Linked DNA regions of Homo sapiens. The protein of the gene in region 2 purifies or fractionates together with the protein of the main gene of each other region. This does not show direct contact. Each region holds a gene or a part of one and is shown on either strand. Other genes may lie near its edges. The genes, in order: SCPEP1 and IMPA1.

Region 1 (3,825 bases), on a different chromosome or scaffold from region 2:
GCACACTTCTGAGTTGCAAGACCAGACGATAACCTTGTCTTGCCATCAATATGCGTAACAGACGGGAATTTTACCCCAAACACTTATGTCAGCATCAGGGAAGTAGAGGGGGCAGGATGACAAAACAGATTTGCCTTTGTACTGAGCAGCACAGACCTGGATTTGAATCCTGACTAGGCCACTCATCCTACGTGGCAGATAGCACATTTCTTGACCTCTCTGAGTCTTCAGAATGCCTCCAATTGTAAAATTTGATCCTTTTGTTGTGATAATTAAATTAAGAAAACTCAGTTCAGCCCTTAGTGGTCCATGGTAGGCACTCTGTCTCTATATTTCTTGGATGTAGCAAACACTTTCTCTAAGGGCCCAGAACATTCTCCTGCTTAGCTCTTTGATCTGGACAACACAGCCCAAAGTCCCAGGAAAGGATGGGCAAAAGGGGAGTGAAAAAATGCCTGAAAATGCCACACTTACCAACAGGGGAGATCCAGGAATCACCCAAGGCAACCCCCGCAAAGTTGCACTTGATGGTCCCTCGCTGAATGGCCTGAAAGAGGAAACAAGAAACGTCCTCAGGCCAGGTGCAGTGGCTCACGCAGTAATCCCAACACTTTGGGAAGCTTAGGCAGGAGGATCGCTTGAGCCTAGGAATACAAGACCAGCCTAGGCAATGTAGTGAGACCCCCATCTCTACAAAAAGTTAAAAAATCAGTGGGACATGGTGGTATGTGCCTTATAGTCCCAGATACCCAGGATGCTGAGGTCAGAGGATCACTTGACCCCAGGAGGTCGAGGCTAGCCTGGGCAGCATGGCAAAACCCCATCTCTACAAAAAAATACAAAAATTAGCCAGGCACGGTAGTGCTCGTCTGTAGTCCCAGTTACTCGGGAGGCTGAGGCAGGAGGATACTTGAGCCCAGGAGGCAGAGGCTGGAGTGAGCCATGATCATGCTACTGTACTCCAGCCTCTAGTCTGGGCAACACAGCAAGATCCTGTCTCAAAAAGAAAAAGTCTGAATATTTGAGATGAAAATTTACAGAAATAGAAAGTTGAGAACTACTGATTGAAGAAAGCAGGCTGAAACCAGTATGTATAATATGATCTCATTCAGCTAAACAATTCTATATAAATGTGCACAAAAATATTTAGAAAGCTATATACCCAGATGCTAACTATAGTGATCTCCATCAGGTGGGAAGGTGAAGTTTTCATTTTTAATTTATGCTTGTTACAGTTTCCAATATTCTATAATGTACATATGCTGTTTCTATAAGTTTTTTAAATTAATAAATCTTAAAAAAAACCCTTATTTAAGCTCACTGATATTCAAACATAGGAGATAGAAGGAAATGTGAAAGTCTTTTACTTTGTCTCATTTGTGCCCTCACACTCACCAACTGACTGCAGTTAAGTGTGTCATGTATCCTTCTAACCCTTTTGTTTGCCGTCACAGCATACAAATCTATCTCCACATATGGAAGTGTTTTTGACTTACAAACAAAGTTATCTCATATCGTTCCACAACTAAATACCCAAAGGAGAACTTTCCACACTCAGTATATATAGCTCTCTGTATTCTTTCTTTTTTCTTTCTTGTAGAGACAGGGGTCTCACTATGTTGTCCAGGCTGGTCTCTAACTCCTGATCTCAAGCAATCCTCCTACCTCAGCCTCCCAAAGTGCTAAGATCCATTCTTTTTTTTTTTGAGAAAGAGTCTCGCTCTGTCACCCAGACTAGAGGCGCAATCTCAGCTCACTGCAACCTCTGCTCCCTGGGTTCAAGCAGTTCTCCTGCCTCAGCCTCCCTAGTAGCTGGGATTACAGGCGTGCACTACCATGCCCAGCTAATTTTTGTATTTTTAGTAGAGATGGGGTTTCACCATGTTGGCTAGGCTGCTCTCCAACTCCTAACCTCAAGCGATCTGCCGGCCTCGGCCTCCCAAAGTGCTGGGATTACAGGCATGAGCCACCGCGCCCGCCTGGATCCATTCTTTATGCTGGCTGCAAAGGGTTTCATCTTGGAAAGATATACCTACTTTATTTAAGCAATCCTCTACTGACAGCCAACCAGCTGTTTTCAGTTTATAAACATTATAAACAATGGCATAATAAACATTCTCTGACATATACATATGTATAAGTATTCCCATAGGACAAAATTATTGGGTGAAATGACACATATCTTTAAAAAATTGACATTGTCAAATTGTCCTTTTAAATTTAAATTAATTTGTATTCCCATCAAAAGTGCACGACAGCACTTATTTCCCTGACTTCTTACCAAAACTGGGTGTTATCAGTCTTTTAAATATTTACAAATCTCATGGACTTGGCTTACTAATAAAAGCTGAAGATTTTTCTTATGTCTAAAGGCTGTTTATATTTCTTCTACAAATTGCTTGTCCACATTTTTCTACTAGGACATTGGTTTTGGTTTTTGTTTTCATTTTTTTCCTGAGACACAGTCTTGTTCTGTCACCCAGGCTGGAGTGCAGTGCCATGATCACAGCTCACTGCAGCTTCAACTCCTTGAGCTCAAGCGATCCTCCCACCTCATCCTCCCAGGTAGCTGGGATTACAGCCAGGAGCCACTGTGCCCAGCTTATTATTTTTTTTTTTTTTGTAGAAACAGGGTGTCGCTATGTTGCCCAGGCTGGTCTGGAACTCCTGGTCACAAGCAGTCCTCCTGCCTGGGCTTCCCAAAGTGCTGGGATTATAGGCGTGGGCCACTGCATTCTGTCCTAATTTTTATTTTTATGTTTAGATTTTAATCCATCCAGAATTAATATTTTATACAAGGCAAGAATACAAGTTTTCTATTTTCCAAAGTGATAGGTATTTGTCTCCATTATTTTTATTTTTATGTTTAGATTTTAATCCATCCAGAATTAATATTTTATACAAGGCAGGAATACAAGTTTTCTATTTTCCAAAGTGATAGGTATTTGTCTCCATAACATTTATCGACATTATATCCATGCCCCAATGATTTGAAACGTTATCTTATATTTATATATGATCATATATATTTATATAAAATACAAATATATGATACACATACATATATATGTGTGTGTGTTTCTGGATTCTGTATCCTGTTGCAATTAACCTATTTGTCTATTGCTATGTTAGTACCACATTCTTTTACTCACTCATGCTTTATATCTTGTTCCAGATCTAGCAGGGCAATCTTCATTCTTCTTTTAAAAACTTTTTATGGTTATTACTACAGATTTAATCGTACTCTGCATGTACATGGCCCTATTCAAAGTATATTTAATAGCACGTGAGTACATAAAAGTAACATAATTGATTTTCTGTCCAAAACCATAACAACAAAGTTATTTTCCATTACCTTATAAAGCTCTAGACCAATGCCAGCTGCCATTTTTCCTCCATAGGACTCTGAGAAAATGTAGAATGGAACTGTCTAGCAAGAAAAGGAATTACACAGAATTAACTACCTTGATTGCTTTTTGAGTCACACAAATTAATTTCAAATTTCTATTGCACGTAATGACCAGAAAAAACAAATCTGCTTTGTCTTCCTCCCCCACCACTCCATATCTGATTATTGCGTCTGATTAGAATGCTCACTCCAAGGTCATTCTTTCAAGTTAAATATCAACTTTAGAGATGACAGAAACAAAAGTCCACAACCCAATCTTGGGAATTAAAAAGTTTTCTCTGAAATCAGCTAGGCATTAAACTCTGGAGGCAGTTCAGGTTTATGCTGATGGATGTAGAGTTGATATTGCCAGCCCTTTACTTAGCTGTTCCTGAGTCTTTGCTTACCTGGAATTCTTTGTGGCAACTGAAGAAGGT
Region 2 (3,825 bases):
GACAAACCTGAATTTATTATGAAAACACATTTACTTTTTCTCAGAAAATGAGAGCAAGGCATATAATCAACTATACGTTTAAAAAATCATACCTTTTTATTTACAGCAAAGCCAATTGAAACAGCTACAAAAGGAAATCTTTTTTTAAAAAAAAGGACAAAATACAAATTAACCAACATAGAACTTTTGTTAATAAAATTAATCTTTTCATAATATAAGTGTTCTTAAAATTTTTCCTATAAAAAGTCTCATCTCCACTCCCCACAAAATCTAAGATGCAAAACAGTTTGTATGGTATACAACCCTTTGTAAATAGGATAAAGTGGAGGTATTATACACACACACCCTCCCCCCAACACACAGGCACACGTTCACACAGGATGCTTCTATAGGCATGAAACATCTCTGAAAGGATTCACGAGAAACTTGTAACAGTGGTCATCTCCAGAGATGGATCCTGGGAAACCAGAAATGGAAGTGTGAAGGGCATTTTGCACTGCGTTTTCTATCTTTTGAAGGTCAAATTCTATGAATATAGTAGCTATGTAAAAATATTTTTTCATGGCCACGCACAGCGGCTCACTCCTCCCAGCACTAATTTAGCAGGCCAAAGCAGGAAGATCACTTGGGCCCAGGAGTTCGAGACCAGCCTGGCTGGGCAACATGGCAAGATCCTGTTTCTACAAAAAAAAAGTCACGAAATTATCTGAGTGTGGCGGTGCACGCCTATAGTCCAAGCTTCCCCGGTAGGCTGAGGCAGAAGGATCCCTTGAGCCCAGAAGGTCAAGGCTGCAGTGAGCCATAGTCATGCCACTGCATGCCAGCCTGGGTGACAGAGATGCTGTCCCCCTTTAAAAAAAAAGCCAAAATGTAAAAACTTTTAAATCAATTTGGTTAAAAAAGAAAACTGTAAAAACTTTTAAATCGATTTGGTTAAAAAGCATATATTTTAGTGATTTTTTTTTTTTTTGGAGACGAAGTTAAGCTCTTGTTGCCCAGGCTGGAGTGCAATGGCACGATCTCAGCCCACTGCAACCTCCACTTCCCGGGTTCAAGTGATTCTCCTGCCTCAGCCTCCCAAGTAGCTGGGATTACAAGCATGTGCCACCATACCCGGCTAATTTTGTATTTTACGTAGAGACGGGGTTTCTCCATGTTGGTCAGGCTAGTCTCGAACTCCCGACCTCAGGTTATCCACCCACCTTGGCCTCCCAAAGTGCTGGGATTACAGGCATGAGCCACCGCGCCTGGCCTGTGATGTTTTTTTCCTATGTCCTACACCGTGATAAACACAAATACTGCACTGGACAAAATAAATGGCTGTTACTTGTCTCTACTCCAACAGCAAACTTTAGGCTTGGCCTCTGAAAAGTAGACTTTGAGCCAAAATTTTTCCATAGCTGCATGACAGTCTGAACACAGGTTGTAACTGCTGACTCACAAGAGAATTAAGATCAAGGAAATAGACAAGATCAACATTCAACTATTGAAGCTAAAGCTGTTGAAAATAAAAACTTTTAAATATGTAAGAAAGTTTTTATTTTAACAAAAATAAGATACTATACACACTGTATTGTACTGTCTTCTCTTCTGTGAAAATATATTAGCATCTTTCCACATTTAAAAGATATAACATTCTATCACATATAGATTCTAAACCTTAGCTTTGTAGATTTCAAGGATTGTATATATAGTACAGATGTGTACAACTACATGGGAACTTCAAATATGACATCTATATGTAATCCCACCAGAAGCGGCTACTGATTTTAACTCTCATGGGCAATTCCACCAGGCTTTCTTCTAGTAATATCATATACCTACTCTGTGTCGGCACTATACTAAGTTCTTACATTAATGTACTACTCATAGAGTTGAGTTACAATTCTACGAGGCAAGTGCTATTAATACGGCCTTTTTATAAATGTTTTTTAACATTGTGGCCTAGAAAAGTTAACTAACTTGCCTAAGGTGAAAAAGCCGTAAAAAAATACCAGAATGCACGTCTATTCATCCTAACACCCATGCAATTTTTTTTTTTTTGCCGGCCCCAGCCCCAGCCCCATCCCCATCCCCGTCACCCTAAGGGCTGAGGAGAGGGGCCTCCTCTGCACTTTTTAACCGTGTTTTTTCTCCTGGACTGAACTCATTCTATATCGACAGCACTCCCCAAGAGTGACTTCATTAGTTTTACTAAAATACAATCTTTTTAACATAGTCAGTTTATAATTTTTTAAATTTATTTTTATTCTTTGAAAACATATCTTTGGCCAGGTGCAGTGGTTCACGCCTGTAATCCCAGCACTTTGGGAGGCTGAGGCAGGAGGATCACCTGAGGTCAGGAGTTCAAGACCAGCCTGGCCAACATGGTGAAACCCCGCCTCTACTAAAAATACAAAAATTAGTCGGGTGTGGTGGCAGGTGCCTGTAATCCCACCTACTTGGCAGGCTGAGGCAGAAGAATCGCTTGAACCCGGGAGGTGGGGGTTGCAGTGAGCCAAGACTGCGCCATTGCATCTCAGCCTGGCCAACAAGAGGGAAACTCCATCTTAAAAAAAAAAAACCATATTTTTACATAGTTACTACTAATAGATGCATATTAGTAGATCCATATAGATCTATGGTACATGCCACTCAAAGAATAGAAAATGGCATGCAGTGCAAAGTGCCCTTCCCACTCTCAAAGCAGCAATGTTGTTTGCTTCCCTTTTTAGATAGTGCCAACAGTGGGAAAAAGAATGGTGAACGGGGCACTTGGCACCACAGGACAAGATCACATTAGTATTTCTTTACCTCCTCCATATCTGATAAGTCTGCATAATACATTTTGCTCCACTTTTACATTTTATATATACTTTATTAGAATAAAGAAGCATAAACGAAGTATACAATTTTCTAAAGTGTACATGTTCCTAAATAGAGTATCTATAGGTCAATCCAGTTAATATGCAAAGAGTAATTATATTAGACATTTTAAAACATACCTATGTACAAAGTTAGTTGTTCCATCAATAGGGTCAATGATCCATGTGGGGTTGTCGGTTAAGATACTTTTTTCCCCAGCTGCCACAGATTCTTCACCAATGAAACTAAAAGCCAAGTAGGACAAACTCTTAATCTTTACACTGATTTCAACAATTTCCAAATCATAACATTTCCTTAGCTACACAGAGTACTATAAAACATAGCAGGCGAGGTGTGGAGGTTCACGCCTGTAATCCCAGCACTTTGGGAGGCCAGGGAGGGCGGATCACCTGAGTCAGGAGTTCAAGACCAGCCTGGCCAATGTGGTGAAACCCCATCTCTATTAAAAATACAAAAATTAGCCGGGCATGGTGGCAGGCGCCTGTAATCCCAGCAACTTGGAAGGCTGAGGCAGGAGAATGGCTTTAGCCTGGTAGGCGGAGGTTGCAGTGAGCCGAGATCGTGCCACTGCACTCCAGCCTGGGTAACTGAGAGAGACTCTGTCTCAGGAAAAAAAAAAAAAAAATAGCAAAAGTCTGTACCCTACACTTTTCTATTGTTGCTTCTTCTTCCTTCAGGTAAAGACTGATAAATGTAAGGAAGCTTTAATTTATTTCCCCATGAATAAAGCGATGTGAAAAATTTCAAAATTCAAATTATAAGATGTTATACTAGGGTAAGGTGTGTGCACACACACATTTGCGGCAGATAAGAAATCATTAAGGAAATGTAATGATTTTAAAAATAGGGGCCAGGTGTGGTGGCTCAGGTCTGTAATCCTAACACTTTGGGAGGCTGAGGCGGGCGGACCATGAGGTCAGGAGTTCAACACCAGCCTGACCAACATGGTGAAACCCCGTC

The links.
Region 1: the proteins of IMPA1 (region 2) and SCPEP1 fractionate together in Homo sapiens (co-fractionation; one large-scale study listed by BioGRID). This does not show direct contact.

What each region holds. Positions count from the first base shown.
Region 1 is NC_000017.11:56,987,821-56,991,645, reverse strand, and holds part of SCPEP1 (retinoid-inducible serine carboxypeptidase precursor), read right to left. Parts: coding exon 3,796-3,825; intron 3,431-3,795; coding exon 3,356-3,430; intron 548-3,355; coding exon 475-547; intron 1-474. UniProt on the Homo sapiens protein: May be involved in vascular wall and kidney homeostasis.
Region 2 is NC_000008.11:81,676,142-81,679,966, forward strand, and holds part of IMPA1 (inositol monophosphatase 1), read right to left. Parts: intron 3,090-3,825; coding exon 2,985-3,089; intron 139-2,984; coding exon 93-138; intron 1-92. UniProt on the Homo sapiens protein: Phosphatase involved in the dephosphorylation of myo-inositol monophosphates to generate myo-inositol. Is also able to dephosphorylate scyllo-inositol-phosphate, myo-inositol 1,4-diphosphate, scyllo-inositol-1,3-diphosphate and scyllo-inositol-1,4-diphosphate.